3 separate regions of the Homo sapiens genome follow, and regions 2 and 3 are each linked to region 1. Evidence: fine-mapped expression QTL. A gene starts in region 1. Each other region holds a variant in brackets. All regions are shown on one strand. Distances are from middle to middle.

Evidence for each region.
Region 2: its variant is fine-mapped to the expression of LYNX1 in whole blood (TOPMed, PIP 0.92).
Region 3: its variant is fine-mapped to the expression of LYNX1 in liver (GTEx, PIP 0.99).

Annotation. Positions count from the first base shown.
Region 1 is chr8:142,772,703-142,782,873 of GRCh38, forward strand. LYNX1 (Ly6/neurotoxin 1) reads right to left here and starts at 4,500. Exons shown (of 4, transcript NM_177477.4): 1 at 4,404-4,500; 2 at 3,204-3,419; 3 at 2,891-2,992; 4 at 1-2,661. The coding sequence starts at 3,255. The coding sequence ends at 2,465. It overlaps LYNX1-SLURP2 (LYNX1-SLURP2 readthrough), which reads right to left and starts at 5,170. Exons shown (of 5, transcript NM_023946.5): 1 at 5,057-5,170; 2 at 3,204-3,419; 3 at 2,891-2,992. The coding sequence starts at 3,255. RefSeq lists a silencer at 9,948-9,997.
Region 2 is chr8:143,022,075-143,032,245 of GRCh38, forward strand. LY6E (lymphocyte antigen 6 family member E) reads left to right here. Exons shown (of 4, transcript NM_002346.3): 4 at 1-335. It overlaps LOC124902034 (a long non-coding RNA gene), which reads left to right and starts at 8,659. Exons shown (of 2, transcript XR_007061135.1): 1 at 8,659-8,812; 2 at 9,570-10,171. RefSeq lists enhancers at 1,192-1,955, 1,956-2,717, 2,718-3,481, 4,244-5,006. The variant T/C (reference allele first, on the strand shown) is at 4,477.
Region 3 is chr8:143,526,478-143,536,301 of GRCh38, forward strand. ZC3H3 (zinc finger CCCH-type containing 3) reads right to left here. Exons shown (of 12, transcript NM_015117.3): 3 at 9,780-9,824. Among named protein-coding and RNA genes, the nearest start is that of ZC3H3, 10 kb to the right of the region's middle. The variant C/A (reference allele first, on the strand shown) is at 6,020.

The DNA of each region.
Region 1 (10,171 bases):
ACTGCTGTGATTTCTGCCGGCGCTGCTGTGCCGGTTCCCTGGTGCTGCACAGCCACGCACTCCCCATGAGTGGGCCTGCCCAGCATTAGCTGAGTGCCTTCTGTGTGCTCTACGCCAGGTGCCAAGGGCAGGCCAGCCAGGCAGAACCATGTGTGGGGCTGGGACAGGTCAGGGTGGTGGAAAGGTGGACAGAAGGAGGCAGGAGGCAGGTGTGAGAAGCTGCCCACCCCACCCCTCAACACCACAGCACTTCCAGCTCCAGCAGGTCCTTGTTCTCAGCTGCCCCTGAGCCATGGGTGGCCAGGTCTCCTCCCCATCACCCCACTGAGACTCGAGACAGGGAGGACCTGATCCTGGAGTCCCTCCCAGCCCTGGCTGAGGAAGCCACCCAACCCGACAATGGGCTTGCGCAAGCCGCGCAGTGACTGCTCCCAGCCTCTCCCAAGGACTTAGGAGCCCAAAGCCGCCTCCCTCCCGGTAAGCATCCCAAGGCATCGCTGGCTGCAGCTGAGAGGGCCTCATTTGGGCACTGCCCTGAGGCTGGCACTTGCAGGTGGGGGCCCTTGGGAGCTCTGGGAGGCACCTGGCAGCCTCCCAGACACCCCGGGCCGGTCCTGCTCTCCAGGCTTAGGGCTACAGCCACAACCACTGGGGGTAGGGGCGAGGGGAGTCCAGGCCCACCCTGTGCTGGCAGCAACTCCTTCCCAGCTCTGGGCCCAGTATGATGCCCATCTTCCCTCTGGGGAGTCACGTTCCTCCCGCTCCGGGCCCGTTCCCACCCAAGGTCCCTTTGCAGAAGACTGGCACTGTCCTCCTCCAGCGGGAACTGGGTGTGCCCTCAGCAAGACTCTGCCCCCTCCCATCCTCATGTTCTCAGGAGACTGAAGCTGGGCACTCAGAACCAGCCCCAGGAGCAGAACGCAGGCCTGCATATAGACTCACTGCAAGGAGACCCCTGGGGTGGAGACCCTCATTCCCTGATCCCCCAGGGGTCCTGCATCAAAGCTCTGGAGATGCAATTTCCAGCAGGGGCTCCCCTGACCAGGGCCATACTTTGGGGCCGGGACAATCCTACCACATGGATATGTCACCATCCTGCCCATGCGGGATGGCTTGAAGGGTTTCTCAGGACACCAGAGCTGGGAGCACTGGTCAGGTGGGGGCCTCAGGTGCAGCGTGACCGCTGGCACCAAAAGGTCTCACGCCCCCGAATGCCCCATTCACAGCAGGGGCAGGTGCTCCCTGGGCTACCTGCATCGGGGATGGATTGGTGCGTGTTGGGCTGACCCCTGCTTCCCAGGCCTGGGGTGGGGTCCCTGGGAGTCCACACACCCAGCTGGGGCTTCCACCCTGCCCTCCCAGTGGGTGCATCCCCAGGTGGAAGGTGATGGAGGGACCCACTCACTGTGCGCATCCCGCTGCGGGGGAGGGGCTGGGTCTCCGCCCTCCCCACCCCACCCTCCCCACTCCCGCCCCCGCACGGCCACGAGAGGGTGGCATGCTCCGCCTTCCCACGCCCAGGCCCGCGCCGGCCCCAGGCTGCTCCCAACCCCCAGCCTGTGCGCGCATCCCCCAGTCCTGCGTCTTTTGCCTTGCTCGGCTGGGTCCTGCTGTGGTTGGGGACCAGGACTCGGGGGACCACCTGCTCTGCCCCTTTCCCTCCCTGCCCAGAATAGCGCTGGCCGGGTCAGCGTCCAGGACCCACCAAATATAGCATGGCCCTAGCTCCTGCCAGCTTCAGGCCTGGTGCCCTCCCCGTGAGGGGGTGGGAAACGTCAAGGGGTTTGACTGAGAGGACACACACCCCTTGCTGGACCCGAAAAAGCTTCTGTGACTTCGGGGGCCCTGGGGCCTGCTGAGGCAGAGCCGCCCCCTCCCCTGCAGGGGGTGGCTCCAACTCGGGCCTGGCAGACTTCCTAGCACAGGGGCCGGTGCCAAAGGCCCTCCTCCCACAGCCCTGATCCCGTACCGGTCCTGGCAGCTCCTGGCCTCAGTAGGAAGCGTGACTAGGCCTGGAGGAGCCTTTCCTCCTAAGAGTCTCCCCACCACCCCACCTGCGGGCATTCCTTGTCTTCCCCCTGCCCCAGCACACCAGGGGCAGACTGAGGCAGGGGCCTCTCCTAGGGCTTCCCAGAAGGTGGGCTTGGCCACAGCTCCCATCTGCTCAGTGCTCCCTGCCTGACTGGGCCCCTCCCCATAAATAGCCCTGGACAGGCGAGGGGCTGATCAGCCCATCAAAGCCGGACACTTTTGGGATCCCACACAGCATCGAAAGGTCAAGGCCTCGAAGTGAGGTCGTGTGGTGGTTGGGGGAGGTCGGGTGTCTTCTTGCCCACAGTCCTGACCCTGGGCATGGCTGAGGAGGTCGCAGGGAGTGTGGAGGGTGAGGCAGGGTGAGCTGGGTGCGAGGGTGTAGCAGTGTGTCTCGAGAGCTTTGTTCTTGAGTGGGTCTGCCTCGGGGGCTTTAGAGGAGACCCCAGAGGGTGGCCAGGAGGATGGGGGCCAGGGCCAGGGTGGCCGGGGTGGCAAGGCCGGTGCCGTTGCAGAGGTCGTACTGGCAGCAGGAGGTGGTGGACGCGTGCTTGGAGTAGCCATCATACACAGTCTCGAAGCAGCGGGGCACGCAGGACTTACTGACCTTCATCCTGGTGGGGGTGTAGTCTGCAGAGGGGCGGGGCGGTGAGCCAGCTCCGCTAAGAGGGGCAGGAGACCCAGCTGGCCCCACCCCAGCATCCACAGCCATCAGGGCAGGGCCCCTCAGCCTGGAGCTCCCAGACAGGATCCGGGAACAGGAGAGCCTCCTTCCTCAGGACCCCCGCATGCTCAGGGGCAGGGCAGAACCTCCCCTTCGTGCTCCCCAGGCAGGGCCACGCAGGGCCCCCAGACTCACAGGTGCGCGTGGTCATGCAGTAGGCAACCATAGCCGGGCAGCGCATGGGGTTGAAGCAGTTGTCTCCGTTGTAGGCACACACGTGGCAGTCCAAGGCCTGGGCTGGGGTTGGCAGATGGGCGGGAAGGGAACGGGGGTCACAGAACATGAGAGGCCCCTCCTCCAGCCCATCAGGCCCCCAGCCCGTCACCTTCCCCGGGGCAGGGGGCTAGAAGGAGGGGTTGTCGCTGGGAATTCTAGCCTCCTTCCCTACTGTCAGCCCATCTGCCCTCAAAGTGGGTCTGCCCATCCCTCTGTCCTTTGTCCATCTTACCCAGAGGTAAGCCCATGAGGACCACCAGGATCAGGGTGAGCAGGGGCGTCATGGCTGCAGGCAGGAGGGCAGCGTGGGAGTGGGGAGGTCAACAGCAGCTAGCCCTGGATCCAACTCAGGGGTGGCGCACAGAGGATCCAACTCAGGGTGGTGCGCAGAGGACGTGGGGCCGGCCCTGCCTCCCGGAGCTCCTGGTCTACTGGGAGTGCTGCAACCCTGCACAGCAGGTGGCAAAGACAGGTGGTCAGTACTGGGCCTGAAGGACCCATGGGGGCCTGGGCAGGGATGATGGTGGGCAGAGGGGCCACCTAACTCAGTGGGTGTCAGGGAAGGTTTCCTGGAGGAGGAGACACTTGGGATGGGACAAGAAGGGAGAAGAGATCAGGACATTTCAATCAGAGACCAGCACCTGCAAAAGCTCAAAACAGCCTGTAGCGCTGGATGGAGGAGAGATGGGGGGAGGATGAGGGGCAGTGCTAGAGAAGGAGTAGGGATGGGCAGAGGGGCCTTAAATACCAGGCCTAAACAAGGATTTTACCCAGGGGATGGTTGGTGCAGAGGTCCCATGGGAGGTGGTCTGCAGCCCCATCCCAAGCAGGGCCCTGGGGGCCGGATGGCTGGCCATGGCAGGACTGGGCCCAAAAGCTGGGTCTCTTCTCGCTGTTCCCCTCCTCTCTGCTCCTGGGGTGTCCCTACTTGGGGTTCCTTCTTCCAGAAGACCTCCAGAGCCCTGGTTAGGGTTGTCTGAGTCCTCGGCCACTGCAGAAGCTCCCCAGCAGGGATGAGCTGTGCCCAGCTTGGGGGGAATGCATTTTGAGCCCCTCCCAGGAGGGCACTTGGGCCAGACAAGAAGAAGCATTTCCCCGGCTGGGTCTGGTGTTTGGAACGGGAATGCCCTCTCTGGAAAGAGGTTTACAGTGGGGAGGTGGGGGTTGGATTACGGCTCTCCTACCCCTGCCGGGATACTCGGCCCTCGGTCTCCGTCCTGGAGGACTAAATTAAACTTACGCCTTCCCGAGAACAACAAATCCGTCTCTCACGACACATTTGCCCAGGCCAACCCCAGGATGCCAAAGGCCAGAGTCAGGCCTGCGGCTTCGAGCTTCCCAACCCCCTCACGGAGAGCCCCGCCCCAAACACTGCGGTCCCAGGTCGAGGGGAGGGCTCTCGGCGCGAGCGGGACTATCAGGGTGACCTCACCTGTGACCTTCACCACCGTGAGGTACCGCCGCGCCTGGGAGTCACCCGCGGCCGCTCGCCGGTAGGTGCCTGCCTGAGTCTAATCGTAGGCGTGTCTGTGTGTCCCGCAGCACCCGTGCCGCATCGCCTGATGCTCACCGCAGGCCCAGCCCAGTCCCGCCCCCGGAACAGCCCGCCCAGCGCGAGCTCACCGCAGGCCCCGCCCCAGGCCTGCCCCGGCCCCACCTCCTGAGCAACCCCCCGAGCCGAGCTCACCGCAGGCCCCGCCCCGGACCCGCCTCCTGGGCTACTCACCAAGCCGCGCTCACTGCAGGCCCCGCCCCTGCCCCGCCTCCTGGGCACCCGCCGAGCCGAGTTCACCGCAGGCCCCGCCCCGGACCCGCCTCCTGGGCACCCGCCGAGCCGAGTTCACCGCAGGCCCCGCCCCGGACCCGCCTCCTGGGCACCCGCCGAGCCGAGTTCACCGCAGGCCCCGCCCCGGACCCGCCTCCTGGGCACCCGCCGAGCCGAGTTCACCGCAGGCCTCGGCCCGGACCCGTCCCCGGACCGCCGGCTCGCCGGGCAAGCGCTGGGACCCCGAGGCCAGTCCAGGCATCTGGATCTCCGACACAGAGGCAGCCACGCAGTGATTCCCTGGCGACCCTCAGACTCACGTGTTCAGCCCGGACACTCCGCAGGCTATCTTCACCGCGTCCCGCGGCAGCCCAGCCTTCCCCGCAGCCGCCTCCGCCCACTCGCCCGCGCCGCGTCGTTTGTCGGCCGGCACCAGCCTTGCGGCCCCAGCTCCGCCCTCCTGCAGCCCAGGCCCAGCAGCTCCGGAACTGGCGCCCTTTGGCGCACCCGCCTCGCTGCCCATGGCCTCCGCCTGCCTCCCCTGCGCTCAGCTCCCGCTTCTGGTCCCTGTAGCAAAGCTGGAAGGCAGGCCTGCAAGGCAGCCCCTTGCTCCGTGGTCCCTCTCACCATCATAATGTTCATATTAAATAATTATCTTTACATAACTTTGAATACTTATGTTATTGGTTCTGTTTTTGGCAAAATGTAATAAAATTTCATGGGTCCGAAAGTTTTCATTTTTTCCAATGTGAGAAAGAAAAATAAAACCTTTTCTTCTACCCTAAAGCTCATTTTTTTCTTTAAAACATTTTTGCGGGCCTGAGGTACAGAATACACCATGCCTGCTGGGCAAGCGGGCTCCGGTTCCAGGAAATCCTTCGGTCCCCAGCAAACTAGGCCAGTTAGTTGTTCTGTTTGCCGAGAGGTAATGCGCACCCTCCTGTGCCAGGTCCTAGTTGGGGAGAAGGCAAAGAATAAAACCAGCAGACGTTCCAGAATATTCCCACCCCATGGAGCTCACACTCTGGTGGGATAAGGGGCGTGGAAGGAACGCATAGGTCAGAACCAGAGTATGTCGCGGTCTTCAGCCTCAGACCACGATGAATTAATACGGATGAAACTTCCCTTGCCCGCCCGCCAGCGCTCGCCTCCTGCTGTGTGGCGTGGTTCCTAACCGGTCTGTGACCCAGGGGTTGGGGACCTTTATGTTAAAGGAAGTTCTTCAGGCAGAAATACGGATCTACACAAAGGAATAAATGACACCAGAAATAGGAAATAGAAGGTAATTTTTTTCTTATTTTTGAATCAAGTTAAAAGATAGTTGATTACCTAAAGCAAAAATAATAACAATGTATTAAGGAATTTATAGCAAATGTAGAAGTAAATTGTATGATAATAGTAGTGCAGGCTGGGCACCGCGGCTCACGCCTGTAATCCCAGCACTTTGGGAGGCTGAGGCGAGTGGATCGCTTGAGCCCAGGAGTTCAAGACCAGGCTTGGCTGGGCAACGTAGAGAGACCTCATCTCTAAAAAAAAAAAAATACCAAAAAATTAGCTGGGTGTGGTGGTGCACACCTGAGGTTGCACCCAGGAGGCTGAGGTGGGAGAATCACTTGAACCCAGGAGGTGGAGGTTGCAGTGAGCTGTGATCACGCTACTGCACTGAAGCCTGGGTGATAGAGCAAGACGCTGTGTCAAATAAATTTAAAAAAAAATAGTAATACAAATAGACCAGGAGAGGGACAATGGAAGTTCACTGTTGTAGATTTATTCTACTCTATGTGAAGTGGCCTACTATTTCTTGGAGGTAGACTAGTAAGTCAAAGGTGTATGCTAAGACGCTAAAGTGTCACTAAAAAAAGACAAAGAAAAAAGCAAAAGTCAAAGCACTGTAGTTAATAAATCAACAAAAGTGATGATACAGAATTATTTATTTATAAAAGCACATGTTACAGAGACTGCAGAAGAGGAGAAAGGAAAAAACAATGAGACAAATAGAAAACAAATAGCAAGATGACATATATTTAAACCCAGCCACAGCAATAATGACACTATGTCATCTAAACACTTCAATCAGGCTGAGCACGGTGGCTCACACCTGTAATCCTAACCTGTAATCCCAACACTTTGAAAGGCTGAGGAAGGTGGATCACTTGAAGTCAGGAGTTCCAGACCAGCCTGGCCAACATGGTGAAACTCCCTCTCTACTAAAAAATACAAAAATTAGCTGGGCATGGCGGTGGGTGCCTGTAATCCCAGCTACTTGGGAGGCTGAGGCAGGAGAATTGCTTGAACCTGGGAGGCAGAGGTTGCAGTAAGCTGAGATGGTGCCACTGCACTCCAGCCTGAGCGACAGAGTGAGTGAGACTCTGCCTCAAAAACAAACAAAAACATCTCAATTAAAAACAGAGGTTGTCAGATTGGATAAAAATAGAAACAGCCAAGTATATGCTGTCAGTGGGAAACTCACCAGACATGTAAAAACACAAATAAGATAAAAGTAAAAAGATGGAGAGAGATATACTATGCTAACACCAATTAAAAGAACACAGACATGACTACGTCAATATCAAAGTAGGTTTAAAGCAAAGACTATAATCAGAAATAAAGAGGAGCATTACTGGCCAGGTGTAGTGGCTCTCATCTGCAATCCCAGCACTTTGGGAGGCTGAGGTGGGAGGATTGCTTGAGGCCAGGAGTTTGAGACCAGCCAGGGCAAAACAGCAAAACACTATCTGTACTAGAAAGAAAGAAAAAAAATTTAAAAAGAGGGACATTACCAAATGATAAATTGATCAGTTCATGAAGAGGACTCAGCAGTTCTAAATATGTATGCACCTAACAATTAAGCTTCAAAATACACAAAGCAAAACAAACAACATCTGATAGAACTGAAAGGAGAAAAAGAAAATCCACAATAACAGAGATTTCAACACTCCTCTTTCGAGAACTGATAAAAAATAGACAAAAAGTCTGTAAGGATGAAGACGTGGATCACATTACCAGTCAACATGACCAACTTGATGTTTGTAGGACACTCCACCTCACAGAAGGGGAACACACCTTTATTTACCAATAATGTCCTCCAAGGCAGACTGTATTCTGGGCCATAGAACAAATCTCAGTAAATTTATACGGATTAAAATCATGCAGATTATTTGCTTGGACTACAATGGAGCTAAATTAGAAATCAATAACAGAAATATATCTAAAAGATCATCAAATATTTAGAAACTGAGTAATAACATATTTCTAAACAACTTATAGGTCAAAGGAGAAACCAAAAAGGAAATCAGAAAATATTTCCAACTGAATGAAAATGCAAACACAATTCATCAAAGTCAAAGGATGCAGCTGAAGTGGGCCCTGGAGGGAAATTTTGCACTAATGCTTCTTTTAGAAAAAAAAGAGCTAAAACTTCTTTTGGAAGAGAAAGAAGTTCTCCAAAAAAAACCACCTAAACTTTCACCCTCGGAAACCAGAACAAAAAGAGCAAATCAAACCCAAGGTAAGCAAAATGAAGAAAATAGCAAAAATAAAAGCAAAAAAAAAAAAAAAAAAAAGTGAGGTAGAAAAAGAAGATAGAGAAAAATCAATGAGAGCAATGTTTGAGAATGCCCCTCCAGGAGGAGGACCTCAACAACCCTCCCCAGTCCGGCTTGTCCATGGCAGGACCAGAGAAAGGACCTCTTGCAAACCAAAGCTAGCTGCCTCTGAGTTGGGGGCTGGCCAGTGGAGTGGGCGGCTGGGGCTGCCCCTCCAGCCCTCCGTGGGATCTGGCTGTCGAGACTGGGCGTTAAGGGAGGCTCTTGGGCCCCCCTGATCTGACTGAATAATGCTCCTTTCTTTCTCCCACCTGGCCTTTCAGCCAAGATGCTGTCAGGCGTCATCAGCCCCACACAGGGCCTGCAACCTTGTAGGTGGGGACAGCGCAGCTGGCCAGAGGGGGCCGGGTGGGAGCTCAGGCCCGACTGGACGGTGAGGAGAGCAGAAGTTCCGAGCAGGTGGAGGGAGGATCCCTTTTCAGAGGACCTGGTCAGTTGCTTTTGCACAGTCTCCCTGACAGCTGCCCTCTGTCTGGACATTGTGCTTTGACTGCTTTTAGCATTTCCATTTTTAAGGCATAGAGAAAATTGCATCCGGTGATGGGCCAGGAGAGTCAGCCATGCACCCCATGACAGGGACAGTGCCCCACCCCTGGGTGCTGGCCAAACCTCAGTGGCTGTGCCTTGGGGCCCCACCACTCAATCCTATGCCTAAGCATCTCCCTGCAAGTTCTGAGCTTGGGCTCTGGCAGAGGGAGCTCCTCCTTCAGGGGCACTCAGGACATGGGGGCAGGGCTGTCGGCCCCCTCTGGCCAGCTGCGCTGTCCACACCTACAAGGTTGCAGGCCCTGTGTGGGACTGAAGATGCCTGACAGAGTCTTGGCTGGGGCTGGGGCTGGGGTCAGGTTGTGTCCAGGACAGTTGAGGAGCTGTCCAGCAGGGTCACAGAGAAGCAGCCTGGAGGCTGGGAGACTGAGCTAGGGACCCCTGGAGGCACAGGGCAGAGGGCAGTGATGGGCTATGAGCTGTGACTGTCCTTGGGCTTGGTCTGGAGTCCTGCCAGCTCCCAGGCCCCATTGCAGCCACATGGGCAGCCTAGCCCTCTCTGGATCCTGCAGGTTCGCTCCCACTCCTGGGCCTTTGCCCAGGGCCCGCACGCAGCCTCATCCATGCTGCCTTCGTTGTCCCTGTACCTGCTGCTGCTTTGCAGTCTTCCCTGACCCACCAGCAGAACTCCCTCTTCCTTCATTCCTGGAGTTTGGTGGCCACAGCCCCCGTTTCCTGCCTTTCAGGGGTGGGAGTGGTAGGGGAGGTGGCATTCCCGCCTGCCTCCAGGCTGCACTGGACACAGAGCACTCCCGTTCCCTGGGCCCTGGATGAGGATTCCTGCAGCCAGCCTGCCGTGAAGTGGCAGGAGTCACTTTCCCTTGCCCAGCCTTAGTTTCCCCATACGGAAGTGGGGATGGGTGGGCCTGCGGCCTAGGCACTCCTACCCCTCTGCTCTCTGCCCGACTCCCATGCCCAGGTGCCTTCGCACACCCTGCCCTGGGCGCTTGGCAGGCCTCAGGCCACCTGTCCAGAGTGGAGTGGAAAAGGGCACAGATGGGGCCATGAGCGGCACTGGCCTGGGCGAAGGCGGATTTTCCCTGTGCAGGAGCCCCGGCACCCGGCTCTCCGGTGGCCACCAGAGGGCGCTCATACTCAGACCTCCAGGAGCACTCGCAGGCCCCTCCCACATGCCAGCACTCAGGGGAGAAGGGGCGCCCTCACCCCTTCACCCTGGGTCATGTCCCTGAGACTGGGGTTCAAGAGCCTCCAGAGAGGCCGGCTTGGAACACCCCAGGCCCAACCCCAGCCTCGGAGCCATGTGGACACTGACTACCCACAGCC
Region 2 (10,171 bases), 250 kb after region 1:
ATGGACATGCTGACAGGGTCCCCAGGGAGACCGTGTCAGTAGGGATGTGTGCCTGGCTGTGTACGTGGGTGTGCAGTGCACGTGAGAGCACGTGGCGGCTTCTGGGGGCCATGTTTGGGGAGGGAGGTGTGCCAGCAGCCTGGAGAGCCTCAGTCCCTGTAGCCCCCTGCCCTGGCACAGCTGCATGCACTTCAAGGGCAGCCTTTGGGGGTTGGGGTTTCTGCCACTTCCGGGTCTAGGCCCTGCCCCAAATCCAGCCAGTCCTGCCCCAGCCCACCCCCACATTGGAGCCCTCCTGCTGCTTTGGTGCCTCAAATAAATACAGATGTCCCCCAGCTTCCTGCTCTGAGTGTGGCTGCCCCTTGCGGGGAGAGGCAGAGCACCCCAGGTTTGGAGGGTCCTGGGGTCTTCTGTGGTATGGCCCAGGGGGGTGGTGGGGGAGGAGGAGTCGTCCCCTGAGCCACAGCCAGCTGCTTGCCTGACCTCAGAGGGAGCCCCTCCCCAGTGCTCTGCCCTTTCTTCTGCCCCAGGTTCAGCAGGTCAAGTGAGTTCCTCCTCCCACAGCGGAAGGAGGTGTTGGGGGGCATGGAGGAAAGAAAGCGGGTGCAAGAAGGAGCACGCTCAGGCTGGGGCAGCACCCAGGGCCGTAGGACTTGGGAATGGAGGGTGTCTGTCTGGACCCGCTGGTGCAGAGGGTACAAAAGCTGGGCTGGGGCAGGACAGACGGGCCGGAGTGTAGTGAGTGGCCTGTGGGAGGGGCAGGGGGCTCCCACGCAGAAGCTCTGGGCAGCAGCCCTGACCCATCCGTGCCTGGACTGCAGTGCTGCCCGCTTCCCCCTGGCAAACAGGTGGCAGCCTCCTGACAGAGGAAGCCGGCCCAGGCCGCCGTGTCTGCAGTTGGGTGCTGTGCGCTGCCCAGAGGGCTCTTTGGGCTGGAGAGAGAAAACAAGAACAGACACCCAGTGGAGGTGTGTTTGTTCATTTCTCCGGGACAGTGGGAGGGAGCCGGCCAGGGTCTCAGCCACTTAGGGCCCGACCCTGAATTTTCCCGGCTGGCCAGAAACTGTGGTGTGTGTGTGTCAGGATCCCAGGGGCACCGTCCAGCAGGAGGGGCCGGTGGTCAACGTGGAGGCCCGAGATTCCCACCCCTGGCAGCTGATGTGAATAGCCGGGTCCTCCCAGGTCCCTGAGGTCAAGGCAGGTCAAAGACCTGTGTCCTCCTCCTGGGTCCCTGAGCTAGTGATTCCTGTCTGAAACACATGAATCATTACTGCCACCCATGAGGGGCCCATTGTAACCGAGCGAGAGGGCCTGGAAGAGGTCAGCGGGAGGAGGGGCCTGATCGGTGGATCAGCTATCCCTGTGCAAGGACCCGGAGCCCATCAGAGCAGCCTGCAGAGACTGAGCTTGAGATTCCGTCGGGAGTTTGGATTCGCTGAGTGGGTCGCTCTAGCATTGAGAAATGCAAGCAGAGAACAGAGGGTGGAAACCAGATGGTCCAGGAGCCTGGGCACTGTAGCCAGGAGGACAGAGATCCCGGTGTTCGGGCCCCGGTGTGCAGTGCGTTCACTGCATTGTTCACTCGGAATCGCAGGTGGCTTTGCTGGAGGGACAGACAGTTGATCATAGTGGAGCTGGTGAGAGGAAGCTGCACCCAAAAGCCATGGCCGGGAACCTGGATCTGACTGCAGGGAAACAGAAGCGTGGTGGGCGCTGGGCGATGATGGAATTTCTAACAAATGCTTTGTTTCTGCTAAAGCTAACTTGCGCTTCCATCTCTGGCATCTCCTCCACTTCCCAGGTGAGCTGACTGGTTACTGAGCCTCACAACCACACTGAGACGGGGGCGCAGTCATCCCCTCGTTTCCCCAGGGGAGACAGGCTCAGAGTGGAAGCCGCTTGTCCTCCTAGGATCTGGGACTCGGGGCCCAGCTCTCCCTCTGCTCTGGGTTTAGGGCTGAGGTCAGAGGCAGCCCTGACCTCCTGCTGGTGGTGGGTAGGGTAGTCCCGCCGGGTTCCTGCTGCCCCGCCCTCGGGAGGCTGGAGGCCCCCCAAGGACAGGTGGTTTCCAGGAGCAGCGGGAGGGAGCCCGGGTTGTGTCCTGGGCCTGGAGCAGAGAGGGGAGGAGCCCAGCGCCTGAGTTTCAATTTCCTGAAGCCTGGGGGAGGGAGAGGAAGAGAGCCTCGTTTCGTTTCGGGGCTCTGGACCTGAGCCTCCCGCCCAGGGCCCACCGCACCCCGCTAGGACCTGGGATTTCCCAGTCTCCACACCGGCCCGGAACTGGGCCCCCTCCTCTCCGCAGCCCATCCAGCCCCACTTCCCCGCTTCCCCGCTTCCCAGCATCTGCCCGCGGATGAGCCTCTGGAGGATGGGCGGCCCGTCCCGGCGCTGCCCCTCACCCACCCCCCACCGCTCAACCCCTGTGGGGACTTCCTGCAGTGAGGCCCAGGCAGGACGCTGCGCTGCCTCCCCCATCCACAGCCTCTGCCCCCTTGACACCCCCGCCCTCTGCGGTGCCTTGCAGGAGTCGCCAGCCTGTGGGCCCGGGACCATTTCACACGCTGTCCACAGTCGTGGAAACCCGGCAGCCACAGCAGGCCTGGGCCCACGGTGCCTCCACCCCTCCGTCAGCCCCCAGCAAGTCTTCCTGGGGGTCCCCAGCCCTGAGTGCGAGACCCTCCAGGCTGCTTCTGGACCTCGGGGCTGGGGCTGAGCCCGATCCTGGCTGGAAATGAGTGCAGGGCCGGGCTGCCTGGGGGAAGGCCCTCCAGTCTCTGAGCCCCACCCTGGGGAATTTGCTGGGACACCTTGAAGGCCGCAGGCCAGACCCCAGGGGTTAATAAGGGAACAAAGTCCTTGGGCGAACACCTGCATTTACTATCTGAGCCAGCAGGCAGCTAGGATGCTGGGTGAGGGGGTCTCTGGGCTGCTGGGCGGCCAGGCGGGGGCATCGGGGCAGGAGCTGAGGGCTGCACTGGGCAACCACCCTGAGCTCCTGTTTACCCACCAGGGGCAGTGCCAGGGCGGGCTGGGCTCACAGCAGAGCCCAGAGGAAGGGGCTCAGGCTGAGCAGGAGCTCCCTGACAGCCTGGCACCAGAGGCCACGCCGCACTGTGGCCGCCTTGTTACGGAGGCTATTTTCACAGCAGGTCATGTCCAGCTTCTCAATCTTCGAGTCAATCAGTCTATCCTCAATTTCTGTGGGGTAAGACCCTCCAGGGACCACAGGATGGGTGAGGTTCATAATCTGGGCACAGAGTGGGGCCACAGCCCTTGCTAGTGTAGCTGAGCTTCTGCCCTGTGGGCAAGAGAGGAGGGTGTCTGGCACAGGAGGCCCCACCCGACCCCCTCGGACCCGCCCCAGGACCGCCCCCTTCAGGGAACCTTGAAGCCAGTGGGGACGCGGAGGCGAGCAGAAGAGAACGGGCGGCGGCCCCAGGCCCCACACCAAGTCTGCAGTCCATTAGATGGAGGTCCCTGAGCTCTGTCCCCAGATCTAAGCTTCCACCAGGCCAGGGGGCTCAAGGCAGAGCCCCTGGGATGCTGCCAGAGAGTGCCCTGCCCACCCCTCACCTGCCTACAGACGCTGGGTCCCACCCAGGACTCACCATCGATAGTGCCAGTGACCACAGAGGAGGGGCAGCTTTGAGCCTGCATGGGATAGGAGACGGGGTGACACAGGCTGGGGTCCAGGACACCGTAGCACTGGAAGCACTCAAGGCCCTGGCCTGGGATGGGGCGGGGAGGGTGCAGGTCAGGGTCGCAGGCTGAAGGGTGGGTTCCAGTCCCTCTCACCAGCACCGGCAGCAGGCCTGGGCAGCACACAGGTAGGCTCAGGTGCCCTTGGCTACTCAGAATTGTGGGCAGGGTCCTGCTGGCATCTGGAGCCCCCAGCATCAAGAGGGTCTTACTCCCACCTTCAGGCCTCCTTCCCATCCCCCACCCTCAGCCAGCAGCAGCATGGGGCTAGTGACCTTCATGGTCTTGGGTATGGGTGCATTGAGGGCACGTGTGGCACAGAGGCTCTGAGCCTGGGAAGAGCTAGGGGAGGCCTTGCACCCCCGAGCCTGGGAACCTCTGCCCCACTTCTGGTTTGTGATGAGGAACCCGGATTGTTTGTGTAAAGTGCACACAGCTGATGGCCTCATCCCATCATCTCACAGAATGGGAATTGAGGGGTAGAAACCCTTCCTTCCTGACCTGGCTGCTCTGGAAGGCAGACATGACCTTGAGCAAGACCCCTCTCACCCCACCCCTTCTCTGCCTGGGGCCTCCCAGAGCTCAGGGTGTGAGCAGAACAGATCCGGAGGGAGGAGGGGCTGCGGTGAGGAGAGGAGGGGCTGCGGTGAAGAGAGGAGGGGCTGCGGTGAGGAGAGGAGGGAGAGGTTGTCCCCTGGGGTGGGAGGACGCCTTAGGAGAAGTTCTGACTCAATAGAGAGGAGGGTCCTGGACTAGGGCCTTGAGTTTCAGTTTCAG[T/C]TTCCTGGTACATCACAGTGTTGGTGTCTGAAGCAGGAGAGAAAAGCAGCCGTGAGACCTCAGGTCACACCCAGGACCAGGCCCTTCCCGCTCAGGATGAGGGTCTCTGGCTGAGCCCACCACTGGCAGGCCCCCGTGCAGACAGAGCCTGGGAGGGGCCAGCAGGGCAACAAGCTCTGACACTGAGACCCCAAGCCAGGCACCCCTTGTTTTCTGTGCAGGGAGCAGAGGCCCCTGTAACGGGGTGGGACGACATGGGGGCTCCCTTGGGGCAGGGGAGGAGGGGTCCAGAACTCTGTCCTGGCCACAACCGGAACCACCCCTGTCCCTCCCCCCTGCCCACCCCCATCACACCCACACCCGAATTTGTTCTTCACGGAGAATCAGAAGACACAGGAAATGGGCCAGGGGTGACTGACTGCAGACTCCACCCCCCCTCCCCAACCAGGTGCTGGGCAGAAGGAAGAGAGGGCTGCCTGGGCTGTGGGGACAGAGCCCTTGATGAAGACAGATAAAGGCAGCAGACCTGCATAAGGATGGGTCGCCTCTCCGGTGGGTGGTCCCTTCCGAAAAGCAGAATCCACTCTGTGCCCTCAGGGGTCTCTGCTTGGAGAGTCCATGGCATCTGAGAGGATGGGCCAGGTGAGGTGGGGGTGGCTCCTGAGAGCAGGGAGGACAAGGGCGGAGCTGGAGGCGTCAGGCCCAGAAGACCCCCCCAGTGACTCGGGGCAGCTGTGGGCAAGGCTTGGACCCAAGAGGCCTGACCACCCCGCCTGGCAGCACACCAGAGCACAGGCCAGACCTGAAGGGGCAGCGCCAGGGGGGCCCATGGTCCACGGGTCACTCTGCTGGCCCTGCGGCCACACTGCTCAGGTCCCAGGGCCTGATGATGGCTGAGCCAGACATCATAACACCAAGCAATGGAGAAGTTAGAATATTGCTAGGGATACTGACTTGTATTTTTGAATCTTAAAATATATGTTTTAATCTGACATCTATAAGCAGTGCATGTTACATGCCAGTCAGAGCACGAGCATCCCCAAGAGGTGTGCACTCTGTGTATCTATGGATAATGAAAGCACGGCTTTCACACAGCAAGTTATCCTCACTTCCTGTGATCAACTCTGATATCTTCTACTTTATTTGAAAGAGTATTGATTGTGTCCCACTCGACTGATTTTACACCCTCTATGTACATGGTCCCCAGTTTATGGGCAGGGCGGTTATTTTGTGTTTTATTTTGTTTTTGAGACGGAGTCTTGCTCTGTCGCCCAGTCTGGAGTGCAGTGGCGCGATCTCGGCTCACTGCAACCTCCGCCTCCCGGGTTCCAGCGATTCTCCCGAGTAGCTGGGATTACAGGCGCCCGCCACCATGCCCGGCTAATTTTTTTATTTTTAGTAGAGATGGGGTTTCACCATGTTAGGCTGGTCTCAAACTCCTGACTTCAAGTGATTTGCCTGCCTCAGCTTCCCAAAGTGCTGGGATTACAGGCATGAGCCACCACACCTGGCCTGTTATGTTTTTTGAGATAGGGTCTCCCTCTGTCACCCAGGCTAGAGTGCAGTGGTACAATCACAGCACATTGCAGCCTCAACCTCCCTCCCAACCTCAACCTGCAGGGGAGGGGAGGGAGAGGAAGGGAGGCTCATCTCAGGGCTCTGAACCTGAGCCTCCCACCAGGGATTTCCCAGTCTCCACACTGGCCTGGAACTGGGCGCCCTCCTCTCTGCAGCCCCATCCAGCCCCCACTTCCCAGCATCTGCCCACGGATGAGCCTCCGGAGGATGGGCAGCAAGTCCTGGCACTGCCCCTCACCCGCCCCCCACCACTCAGCCCCTGTGGGGACCTCAGGAGGTAAGGCCCAGGCAGGACCCTGTGCCACCTCCCCCATCCACAGCCTCTGCCCCCTTGACGCCCTTGTTACAGAGGCTCTTTTCACAGCAGGTCATGTCCAGCTTCTCAGTCTTCAATCAATCAGTCCATTCTCAGTTTCTATGGGGTAAGACCCTCCAGGGACCACAGGATGGGTGAGGTTCATAATCTGGACACACAGGGAGGGCCACAGCCCTTGCTAGTGTAGCTGAACTTCTGCCCTGTGGGTGAAAGAGGAGGGTGTCTGGCACAGGAAGCCCCACCCGACCCCCTTGGTCCCACCCCAGGACCGCCCCCTTCAGGGAACCTTGAAGCCAGTGGGGACACAGAGACAATCAGGAGACAAGCAGAAAAGAACAGGCCGCGCCGAGTCTGCAGTCCTTCCAGGCTCAAGCGATCCTCCTGCCTCATCTTCCAAGTAGCTGGGACCACAGGCACCTGCCACTACCCCCAGCTATTTAAAAAAAAAAAATTTATAGAGATGGGATCTCACTATGTTGCCCAGGCTGATCTTGAACTCTTGGGCTCAAGTGATCCCCTTGCCTCAGCCTCCCAAAATGCTGGAATTGTAAGCGTGGGCCTCTGCACCCGGCCTGGTCCGCAATTTAAAAACACACAGCCACCATTCCCTCTCCAGAAAGCACCCAGATGCCTTTGGGAGAACCAGCCTCCTCCATGGAGGAAAGCTTGGGATCTGCCTTCCCACCTGGGGAGGAGAGGGATCTGTGGAAAATCCTTCTGACGGACTTCCCCTCAGTGCCTGATCCATACTCAATAGTAGAAAAATTAAGAAATATACAAAGATAGCAGATACACGGAGACAGTTCCCCAAATAGCTGAGCGAATAGCGCAGAAGCAATATTGAAGACCTAATAGCTGAGACATTTCCAGAACTGATAAAGTGCGTCCAGCCACAGATCAAGCAGCCCAGAAAATTCCAGGCAGCATCAACAAATAAATAGCCCCACATGCACCCGTGAAAATGCAGAAGACCAAAGAAAAAAGTCCTGTCAACAGCCAGAGAAAAAGATCAGCCACCAGGGGTCGGTAGTGAGAAGGACAACTGTGGAAGCCAGGAGAGATGACAGCCCTGAGTTCCACAGGCAATGGAAGAAAGACTGTCAGACAGAAAGGTTGTCCCCAATATACTTGCACTAAAAGAAAATCTTTTTTTAATTTATTTATTTATTTATTTATTTTAGACAGGATCTCACTTTGGAGTGCAGTGGCGGGAACACAGCTTATTGTAGCCTTGACCCAGGCTCAAGCGATCCTCCCACCTCTGTCCCCGAAGTAGCTAGGATGACAGGTGTGCACCACCATGCCCAGCTAATTTTTGTATTTTCATAGAGGCGGGGTTTCTCCCTGTTGCCCCAGCTGGTCTTGAACTCCCTTGATCAAGGAATGCTGGGACTACAGGTGTGAGCCACAGCACCGGCCAAGAAGGTCTTTTAAAAAGTCTTTTCGGGCACGGTGGCTCATGCCTGTAATTCCAGCACTTTGGGAGGCCAAGGCGGGTGGATCACAAGGTCAGGAGTTCAAGACCAGCCTTGCCAAGACGGTGAAACCCCGTCTCTACTAAAATTAGCTGAGTGTGGTGGTGGGCACCTGTAATCCCGGCTACTCGGGAGGCTGAGGTAGGGAATTGCTTGAACCCGGAGGCAGAAGTTGCAGTGAGCCAAGATCATGCCACTGCACTCCAGCCTGGCGACAGAGACAGACTCTGTCTCAAACAAAAAAAAGAAAAAGAAAAGAAAAGTGATCTTTAGGCTGGACATGGTGCATGGTGGCTCTCACCTGTAATCCCAGCACTTTGGGAGGCCTAGGCAGAAGGATCGCTTGAGTCCAGGAGTTCCAGACCAGCCTGACCAACATGGAGAAACCTGTCTCTACTAAAAATACAAAAAAATTAGCCGGGCGTGGTGGCGCATGCGGGTAGCCCCAGCTACTCAGGACGCTGAGGCAGGAGAATCGCTTGAACCCAGGAGGCAGAGGTTGTGGTGAGCTGAGATTGTGCCATTGCGCTCCAGCCTGGGCAACAAGAGCAAAACTCCATCTCAAAAAAAAAAAAAAAAAGTGATCTTTAGGCCGGGCACAGTGGCTTGTGCCTGTAATCCCAGCACTTTGGGAGGCTGAGGTGGGTGAATCACTTAAGGTCAGGAGTTGAAGACCAGCCTGGCCAACATGGTGAAACCCCATCTTTACCAAAAATACAAAAATTAGCCGGGTGTGGTGGCACGCACCTGTGATCCCAGCTACTTGGGAGGCTGAAGCAGGAGAACCACTTGAACCCAGGAGGCGGAGGTTGCAGCGAGCCAAGATCTCGCCACTGCACGCCAGCCTGGGCAACAGAGCGAGACTACATCTCAGAAAAAAAAACAGTGATCTTTAGCCAGAAGGAAAATGGTCCCATTCAGAATCAGAGATACCTCAAGTGATGAAGCACAGATTCGTAGAAATGTGGTGAGTCTAAATGAACATCAATTCTATTAAAAAAGATAAAATAGTGGCCGGCGCGGTGGCTTACGTCTGTAATCCCAGCACTTTGGGAGGCCGAGGGGGGCGGATCACCTGAGGTCAGGAGTTCAAGACCAGCCTGACCAACATGGTGAAACTCCATCTCTACTAAAAATACAAAAAAAATTAGCAAGGTGTGGTGGCACATGCCTGTAATCCCAGCTACTAGGGAGGCTGAGATGGGAGAATCACTTGAACCCAGAAGGCCTCTCACGCCATTGCATTCCAGCCTGGGCGACAGAGCAAGACTCCGTCTCAAAAAAAAAAAAAAAGTTCTGTCTTGTGGGAGATTTAAGTTTTTGTGGTGAAATTAAAATTCATACCATAAATACAAACCTGGAAAGGAGTGAATACAATGAGGCGAACCCACTGGGCGGTTACACAGTGGCCCACAGCTGTAGTCCCCACTACTCAGAAGGCTGAGGCAGGAGGACGGCTGGAGCCCAGGAGTTCAAGACCCACATGGGCAACATAGTGAGATGGAGCAGGGACCCCTCCTAGGTGCCTGCCAGGCTCTCCCAAGCTTGGAAATCAAGGAACACTCTTGAATCCCTTCAAGGGAAATTCCAGTCACCTTGCCAGCCTTGAAAGGTAAGTGAGCAGCCTGCCAGGAAGGCGACGGGAGCACGGGTCTCCCAAGCAGGCCACAGCCACAGGTGGTTTGCTTCCCTATAGAAACTAAAGCATAACATACATTCTCAAGTCTTTCAGAAACCCCCACCCGGTGGAAAATGCCGACTGCTATCACAGAGACCCAGATAAGGGGGAACTGAGGACTGAACTCTGGCCGTGTTCTCTGTCATGAATTTCTTCTTGAGGGGCCTGGAGGGAGTCACAGCTGTGAGCCACTAATGTGTGCCCCCATGCACACAGCACCCTTGGCATAACTAACTCCATCTTAGAGACTCCATTGTATATCTTACAGGGCACTTGGCCAACAAAGGTAAGATGTTTTGCTTAATAAACAAGTTAAAAATAAAGCCTGCATCCAAACAGATGAGGACGCAAGCAAGCGCACTCTTCAGATGTCACTTCTCACGGGAGGCCTCTGTGATTGCAGAAGGAAAGGCCCCAGCAGAACTCACCATCTGCCGCCTGAGGCTCCACCACCTCGAAGACATCCTTGCAAGATCCACAGACTGGCCCAGACCAGGAGGTTTCTGTCTTCTTCTTGTGTCTTCTTCACTCTCCTGGACTGGTTCGTGAACCCTTTCTCCTATCTCTGTTTCCTCTGGATGTTAAGTGCTACTTTCTTTGTTGTGGAACGTTAACCTGTAACATGTATATACTGATTAAGTACACTAT
Region 3 (9,824 bases), 750 kb after region 1:
CACGCGATTGGACTTGGTGCAGGGGGAAACAACCAGTGGGGATCACGGGGTTCCCAGACGATGCCCAAGTCCACATGGACTCTGACCACACCCAGCTTTGCCACGACCCACCTGTGGGACCACAGCAGGGGCCCTCAGGCAAGGGTCAAGGTGGAGAGACAGAGGAGGCTGGCAGGGGCCACTTACGGGCAGCAGATGGGGCACAGAAGGCTACAGCCCCAGCAGGGGACTAAACAGGGGCCCAGCAACATCCTGACCCCATGCAGAGAAGGGGCCAAATCCCAGAAGGTGCAGGCCACATTCGTCCCCAGCTGGAAAGCCGCCTCAGTGCCCAGAGCCACACCCACTCCCCAGTCCCTCAACAGGAGGCCAGCTGAGGCTGGCAGAGCCATGCCCCCATTACTTTGGTGGGAGAACCGAGAGCTGGTGAAAAGACACCGCCAGGAGGCAAGCAGGAGGCAAGCAGCACAAGCCCTGCTGGCCATGCCTGAAGATAGACCCCTGAGAGGCCGGCACAGGAAGAGGACAGGCGGGCAGAGTGGGAGGAGGACCAGGCCAGCAGGGGTGGCCATCGGGACGGCCCTGTGCCGTGCCCACCCGCCACCCGAGCACTTGGCAACGTGCCCCTGGCTGCCTGGTGGGGGTTAGCAGGTGGTGACAGAGCCTGTGTCCTGCACCCCAACACCCACTGCCTGGTGGACTCCTGAGAGAGGCCACCAGGGTGAGGGACCTACCCAGGCTCTCGGACAGGTGTCCTGCACTTGATTCAAAGTCTGCCAAGACACGTGACTGGGGGGATGTGCCAGCCCTGGGCTGGGAAGAGAGGGACAAGAGGACTACCTCAATCCATTCAACAAAAGGAGCAGCCCAAGCTGTCCCCAGTGTGGGGACCCAGGGTCCTACGGTGGTATGAGTTCTGGCTCTCCTGAGAACGCCACCCTGCCTGCGCAGCCCAGGTCTTCAGCTTGGCACCCACAGCACAGTGCAGCACCACCACGGCACACACGCGATCCCACGCCAGTTCTGTGAAGTAATTAATTAGCACAGCCACAACCCACGCAAAACTGGAGGCCGCCGGCATGCCTGATAATTTATGCAAGATTCAAAGATCGCTGTGGCTGCCTTTCCTGAAGCCTAATTCAGCATTTTCTTTTTCCCTTATGAAAGCAGGACTCCAGATCTAACTGCTCTCATGCCCTTTCACGGGGTTCACCGCAGTAAAATTGAACAGCCCAGCTGCACACAGCAAGCAATGGTGGATCACATACCCCAGAGGCACCAGGCAGAGCCTCCCAGGTGGGCAATGCTGGCCAGCAGCACAGCCCAGCAGGAACATCACACCGGGCCAAAGCACCCAAAGGCACCGCTCAGCCCCACAGCAAACATTCCTGACCCCATTCACAGATAGGGCACCGAGCACCAGCAAGGAGAACGGGCAGACAGGGCCAAAGTCTCCCGCCAGGCCACGCCCACACCACGCCTGGGGGCTCATAACCCTGCCTCCTGCATCCGGCAAAGGTCCAGGCCTCCAGCACCGGACATGGGGCTGCTCCCCAGTACCTAGCAGCATGGGACAGGGTGCCTGCTCCTCACTCTCGCTGGGGCCAGGGGAGAGTCTCCGGCCCCTCTGGCCCTGGCACCCTCCCCCACTGCCAAGACACAGCAAGCCCACCCTGGCAACCACCCTGCGGTGCACCTCGGGCCCTGCGTGCTCCTGCCTCCTCGGGGGCCGCCACTCATCTCTGCGCAGGGCAGGGGAGCCATATTGTTTCTGACCACAGCGCTCCAGCTCCCCACAAGGCTGGGACCCAGACCCAGCCAACTCACAACAGAAGCCAGGCGGCACTGCCGAGGCGCTGTGGGGCCAGCGGCCACGCCTCGGCCAGGCAGCGACAGACACCCTCCACGGTCAAGCTTCCATCCTCAGGCTCTGTGCAGCAGGTCAGGGCTCCACCCATGCCTCACATTCCATCCACGGCCAGCCTCCCGGGGAGATCGCCAGGCTCAGAAAGGCCTCCCAGCAGCCTGGCACAGGAGGTTACGGCGAGGATGGCACAGAAACCAGCCCCTCTGCTGGAGGCCGGGGATCGAGGCTGGTGGCACTCTGCCCACTTGCTCACTGAGCCTCTGAGTGCTGCTGCCGACCTCCACCGGCCTGCACATCTCAAAGGGGCAGGACAGCGTCAGGGCAGGGAGCCCTGTGTGGCTTTTCCTCCTGGTGGGCAGCCCTCTGCCAGGCCCTCACCCCTCGGTTGCCCGCTAAGCATGGTGACTGCCCCACCTTCCCGCCCATGGCCTGCCCATGGGGCCTCCTGAGGGAGCGAGGCCCTCCCTTCTGCCCAGGTCCAGTCCTCTGGGAGGGGGGGCGCCTCACCCTCACCAGGAGCTGCCGCAGCCTGAGGCTCACGTGCACGCAGGGCGGCCAGGGTGCTCCCCACAGCACCTTCTTAACAGGCAGGACGGACAATAAGCCGGCAATTCCTGCAATACAAAACATGAGGCAGGAGGAAGGAATGCCCATGGTGGCGGGGTGGCTGGCACGCGATCTTAGAGGAGCTGGCCTGGCAGAATGGACCACGGCCCACCTCACAGACTCCCGAATGAGGGGAGCAAACTGTGCACACCTAAGGGTGGGGGACGGGCCTGGCCAGAGGTTGGGCCTGGTTGGAGCAAGCCGGGCCTTCGAGGTGGGGCAGGGCCAGTCGAGAGAAAGCGGTTGGGTTTTTCCCATGCACTGGAATCCACAGGCTGCGCTGGTCACCGGGAGAAGCCGCTGGGGACAGAGGGACAGAGGGGTAGGGGGCCATCACACTCCCAAGCTGGTGCCTGCTCAGTGACACCCCCATAAGCATCTGTGGCCAAACAGTGCAAAGCCACAGCACGGGCTGGGTGCAGAATCCACCCAGGCCTCTGATGCCAGGGCTGCGTGGCAAACCACCCCCTCTCCAAGGCACCGGGAGGCAACACAGAAAGGATCGTGTGCACAGGGAGGACCCAAGGACACAGGAGGGCCCCAGGGACCTCTGAGGACTCAGAGAGGTCACATGAACAGCCGTCAAGGCAGGCCCTTCTGAGACCGAGAAGTCAGGAGGCAGCGTTCCAGGAAATGTCGCACCACAGTCGGGGGGAGACCCCACACAGGACTGGGCGGGCGGCCAGGGCTCTGGGGAGGCTGCCTTTGGCTTCACCAGGGCTAGAGGGTGAGACCCAGTATCCAGAGAGCGCCGTGTGCCTGAGGGACCCCAGCCTCTCAGGTCCCACCTGGGTCCTGCTCTGGGGCTGGGGGAAGCCACGACCACCTGGTGGCAGGGAGGGGCTGAGGGCCAACAGCTCACACAGGCTCTCCCTAAGCACTTCCTCAGAGAAACTCGGACTCGGGGAATGGGCATCCAGGCCCCAAAAGAGTCACCCAGGCAGGACAGCCCTGGCACCTAGTGACACCAGCCAGAGGTGGGTCCAAGACCCACGCCTGCCCTTTCTGCCAGTGAGCTGGGGTGAGTGGAGACTCCACTTCTCATCTGCAAATGCTGACAGCAGTTCCTCCACACCCAGGGGCGGGCACGGCAGACTGAGGGACGGGTAGGAATCGCCCTCCGTGTGTACAGCAAGCTCTGGGCCAGAGGCAGATGCCCGGCCTGGCTCCTGTCAAAGCCTGGGCAGCCGGCAGGCCTCGACCCAGCCTGGTTGTCCACACGAGACCACCACGCAAGCCAGGCCCTTTCTGTCCACCACAGGTGTGCCCAGGACCTGCCAGGCCCGCACCCTCCACCAGCACACTGGCGACAAGTCTGGGAAGGCGGCTGCTTCCCAGGCAGGGCCCTGGGCTTATTCCAGGCCACGGGGGAAGGGGGCAGGCCACCGGCATGCATCCACCATCCTGGGTGGGTGAAGCAGAGAGGGCCCTCCCACTCCAGCAGATGACGACACCACTGCCTACCCACCTACCATGACTTTTCCCTGGCGTAAAATAGCAGACGTTTCCATGTGGCTGGTAGGAATCCCATCACCTCCCGCCACCAAGAAGCTCCCCAGCCTGGGCACAGGGTGGTGGGTGGGAGAGCTGGCCCTCACTCCTGGCCTGGCCTGGAGTGTACAGCCTGGACAGCATCCCTCTGCACAGGCCGGCCAGGCTTAGGGAGTCATGCCTGTCATCTCAGGGTGGCCGAGCACAGCGACGGGCCCCAGGAGGATGTACCACGAAGCTGGCCCCACTTCCCCCGCACCACAGTGAGAGCCTGGCCACAGTGCTCAGCCGTGTGTACTGTAAACACTGTACTCGAGAACACTGATTGCCACAGTTATGTGAGTGGCAAACAGGACACCATTTTTCAGACTCCAAAAAGGTTTTCTTCTCTTCTGCCCAAATGCCCCCTCTAGCATCGGTCCACCAGAGACAGATCAACCCAGGCAGGTCTCTACTGCAGCCTCCAGCAAACATTACTCGCCCAGGCCACCCTTCTGGGGCTGTCTTCTATCTCCTTTTTTTTTTTTTTTTTTTTTGAGACAGGGTCTCATTCTGTCACCCAGGTTGCAGTGCAGTGGTGCGATCATGGCTCACTAGAGCCTCAACCTCCCAGACCTAAGCAATCCTCTCACCCCAGCCTCCCGAGTAGCTGGGACTACAGGCGTGTGCCACCATGCCCGGCTAATTCTCGCATTTTTTGTAGAGATGGGGTTTTGCCACGTTGCCCAGGCTGGTCTTGACCTCCTGGGTTCAAGTAATCACCCGCCTCAGCCTCCCAAAGTGTTGGGATTCCAGGCATGAGCCTCGGCACCCGGCCAGTGTCTCACATCCTCATCCCCCAGCTGCCAACAGACCCATCCCCAGGAGAAAAGGGAAGGAAGAAACGGAAGGCAAGGGGCACACTGACAGCAGAGGAAGAGACCCCCAGGAATCCCCTGCCCCGCCCCCAGCCGAGGTCTGACTCCAGGCCCAGAGGACTTCGGAGGGCCGGGAGAGGCAGGGAGGGGAGGAGAGGCACCGAAGAGTCAGGCTGAAACCTTCCAAACAGTCTCAGTCCCCAGGCGTGAGCGGCCACAGTGCTGCTGAACAATGCACTTTTGAATTCAATTAAAGCGATTATCTGTTGTGCCAAATAAATTGTGTACAGCATATATCCTGTGGCACTTTACACCTCCAGGCTCATTATTCCCTAACTGTTTCCTCCTGTTTATGCCTCTCAAATTAAATTGCTGATAATATGCGCCAAAATAAAAAATGAACGCACCTTGTCCCAAGAAAATTGATTCTCCCTTTTCCTGAACTGGCGATGGCCAGGTTTTATATACTCTGTTCTTGGTGATCATTAGTAATTCAATTTTCTTTTTATTAGCCCCCTTATCTGCTGAGCAATATAGTGGCAGGGCTGACCTCTTTCGCACGGGTAAATGTTTAAAATCTTTTCCCTGATTAATTTTGCCAGTTAAGAAAAAGAGGAGAAATGGCCCGGCTCTTAGCCATCACAATGAATAAAGCTTAATGTTGATTGTGACGGAATTTCTAATGCCAGGGAAATTGATTGAACGCGGCAATTACGCTGCAATAGTAACTCAGGGGAGATGGGATCGCTTTCTCCTGGCCGTAGCCTTTTGGTTATTTAAAATAATCCAATTTGCAAGGATAATTATGTATTAGCGTTTTATCTGCCACTTGAAATGAACAGGGGAGTTTCGATACTGGCCCAGCATTAGCAGGTTATTGCTGCAAATTACTTGGTATCTGCTTTCTTTCACATAAAAAGGAAATTACGCGATTACCAAAAAAGGGTGGACGGAGGCGATAGGAGGGGCAAGCATGCCCTCTGCTGGCCACTGGGCCGCACGGCAAGGCTGAAGTGCGGCGGGGGAGGGAGGCGGCAGCAGGGCTGCCTGGCAGCTTTCAGAAGCCCCTGTCCCTGGTGCATAAGTCCACAGGGCAGTCGTCCCCAGCTGGACACTGGGACACTGCCGTCTCCTTGAAGAGGAGAGGTGGAGCTGGAACTAAGCTTTTGCTGGGCAGAAAATGGGGAAAGAAAACTCC[C/A]AACAGCCAAATGAAGGAGCAGTCCCACCTGGCTGCCCCATCCACAGCCCACACGACCCCAGCATCCAGGAACGAACACCCCAGCCGATGGAGGCCTTGGCCACCCGGGAGGGCTGAAGGAGGGCCTGGGAAGGGCTCACTGGCTCACCAGAGCACTGCAGCGTTCAACGAAACAAAGCTGGGCCCTGCCCAGAAGCCCACTGGCCAAGGCAGAGGACAGGCAGGCCTCAGTTCCTAGGCAGGCAGGCAGGCATGGAGACGGTGGGCCTTGCAGGAGGGCACCTGGGGGAGCCACTCAACAGCTTCCTGGGCCCCAGCCTCCCATCTCCTCAGCAGACGCCCTGGCCACGCCCACCTCCCCTGCGGCCAGCTTGGAGTCTCACGGTGGCTGTCTCTGGGGTCAGCCGCCTGAGTGACCAGGCCAGGACGCAGGCTCGGCCTCTCACCTCCGCGCACATCTCCACGGGCTCCCTGCCTGCTTGAGAGCCTGCGGACTCCGCTCCTTGGCCTGGCGTCAGTGGCCTCACGCACAGGTCCTCCCGACTCTGCCCACTCGGGCCTGCCAGACACCCCGGGGCCCTGGACACGCCCCTCCCAGGGTCCTCCCCTGTCCCTCCCTGGCTTCCCAACGTAACCAGAACCAACCCCCCGTTCCCTCCTGTGGCCTACAAGACCCTTTCCCAGGACCTGGTCCCTCTGCCCCGTTGGCTGCATCCCCTCCAAGCCACACTCCCAGATGGTGAACTGGCCCCACAGCCTCCTTGTGCTCCAGAACACAGTAAGCTCGTTCCCACCTCCACCTCGGCCTCAGAGCTGAGCCCTATTCGCTCCTCTCTGCTCAGGTCACCTCCTCAGAGAAGCCCTCCCACTCGCCAACCACCTCTCTGCAGCTGGCCCTGTGCTCTCCCCCTGCCTGTTCCTCAGAAGGCATTTTCCACCCAGGAGCACCTTCCTGGCTGATGTACAAGCACTCCAGTGGCTGCCTGTCTCCACCACTGGAAGGCGGCTCCAGCCTCATCATCTCTTCACCTTCACTGCAGTATCCCCAGGAGCCGGCAGGCTGCCAGGCACAGTGACTCAACCACGCTTGCCAGTTGGGCCAGTGGTGGGCAAGTGAGTGGGACGCCTTCCCCACCCCTTCCTCAGACAGGACCCTCTCCTCTCACTCCATGCAGCCGCCACGCTGGTCTTTTTTTTTTTTTTTTTTTGAGACAAAATGTCACTCTGTCGCCCAGGCTGGAGTACAATGGCACGATCTAACCTCTGCCTCCTGGGTTCAAGTGATTCTCCTGCCTCAGCCTCCCGAGTAGATGGGATTACAGACGCTCGCCACCACACCCAGCTAATTTTTGTATTTTTAGTAGAGACGGGGTTTTGCCATGTTGCCAAGGCTGGTCTTGAACTCCTGACCTCAGGTGATCCACCCGCCTCGGCCTCCCAGTGTGCTGGGATTACAGGCATGAGCCACCACGCCCAGCCTCACGTTGGTCTTTAACTATGAGTTTGGCTGGGCACAGTGGCTCACACCTGTAATCCCAGCACTTTAAGAGACTAAGGCAGGAGGATCACTTGAGCCCAGAAGTTCAAGACCAGCCTAGGCAACAAAGCAAGACCCTGTCCCTACAAAAAAATTAAAAATTAGCCAGGCACAGTGACATGCACCTGTAGTCCCAGCTATTCAGCAGGGTCACTTGAGCCCAGGAGGTTGAGGCTGCAATGAGCTGTGACTGCACCACTGTACTCTGGCCTGGGAGGGAAGCAGGGCCCTGTTTCTAAAAACATTAAAAAAAAAAAAAAAAACGACGAGATCAATTACGCCCTTCCCTCTAGTGAGGCAGGACCGCAGCAGCCCCTCAGCTGTGCACTCCGAAATGGTCAGCCGGTGAAGCTGGTGGCCTCCCAAACCCACTCTTCCTGGCAGGAGTCCGGGGGGCGCCGAGCAAGGCCCCACCAGCAGGAAGCAACCTCCCCCATCCCCTGCCTATGCCCCACTCTACTAGAGGCCTGAAGAGGGAGCAGGCCAGGTGAGCAGGGCTGAACCTGCACCCAGTGGGGAGCCTCTCACCCCAACCACCACGCCATCTGCAAGCCTTGGCCTCCTAGGGCTCAGCAGACCCTGCTGGCCTCCCAGAGCTGGACACCTCCCCAACCCCTCCTCCCCAAGTGACCAGGGGATACCGCCAACTGTCCAAGCCACCCCTACCATCCACTCCCAGATAAGCCCACGACCTAACCACCATCCGGCCACCTCACTGTGGCCACCAGGGACCGCATGGGTCTCTGCTTGCTCCCTGTCACCAGGATGAAATCCACATGTCCTGGCGTGCAGCAGGTGTCGGCTAACGGGGTACAGCCGACCAGCGCCCCCAGCCCCACTTCCTCCCACCCCACTGTGCTGCAACACCCGGCTGCATCGCCCCATTCAGCCCTCCACCTGGGACCCAACGCCCTGCCCTCCCGCGGCAGCCCCCACACGGCTCTTGGGTCTGCCCAGGCCCAGCTCCTTCCAGAGCCGTCTGAAGCCTCCCTAGATGACGGTACGCTTGGCTGGGTTTCTTTTTTTTTTGAGACAGAGTCTCGTTCTGTCGCCCAGACTGGAATGCAATGGAACGATCTCGGCTCACTGCAACCTCCCAGGCTCAAGCAATTCTCCTCCCTCAGCCTCCCGAGTAGCTGGGATTACAGGCATGTGCCACCATGCCCAGCTAATTTTTGTATTTTTGGTAAAGATGGGGTTTTGCCATGTTGCCCAGGCTGGTCTTGAACTCCTGGCCTCAAGTGATCTTCCCACCTTGGCCTCCCAAAGAGCTGGGATTACAGCCATGAGCAACCGCGCCCAGCCTTGGCTAGATTTCTGAGCACCGGTTCCCAGTCGGAGTGCCCAGGTCCAAGCCTGCTCAATCCCCAACGCCCCACCTTCTCCAGATGTCACAGACACGAGCTCGGGAAGTCACTGCCCTAACGCGCCCAGCAGAGCCCCAGAGTCGCACAGGACCAGGTGCACACAGACGAACGTGGCTCCACACTGACCCCCACGGTGTCTGGGGGGTGCCACACCCAAGGGCTCTAGACCCTCACCACATACCCCCAACCACGTGCCCGCCTGGAGGCCGCTCCCCCAGTGTGTCCTGGCAAACATCACCGCAGTGGGGGTCAACCTCAAAGGGGCTACGCCCCACAATCTGCAGGCCGGGGCCTTCCCAGGCCACCACAGGGGCTCTCAGGGGCTCAGACCAGTTCTCTCCAGGCGTGACTGGGCACACTTAGAGTGGTACAGCAGGAGACCAGACCAATTCTTTCAGGCCACTCAAAAAACTCACACAGTACCATGTGACACTCAGAAAGGGCAGGGCAGGTAGACCTGCAGCCCCAGCCAGCTGAGCACAGAAGGGCCCTGGAGGAGGCAGAGGCCTGGGGGTGCCCAGCGCAGCACAAGCGAGGGCTTCACCCCTGCTTAAGGGCTCAGCAGCCGCCGCCCTCTCCTCCCTCAGGAGGGACACAGCTGGGTCCATACCAAGGGACACACAGAAGAGGCCACAGCACCTGCCCAGCAGCACATCCCACAGCCAGACTGCAGGGCGCAGCATCCGGGCCCTATCCTCTATCTGCCAGCCCACCACCACCGTCTGCCAGGCAGTGCCCTCCCAGCCAGGGCCTCTACCAGCATGAGGCAGGGAAGGTGCCCATGGCTCCTAACACGCCAGCATATCCCATCAGGCAGGCCCAGCCCCAGTGCCCAGCGCCCCTGCTCCCAGCATACCTTCCTTGGTGGGGAGGTGGGCCCGGCTCGGTGGCAGGCGACATA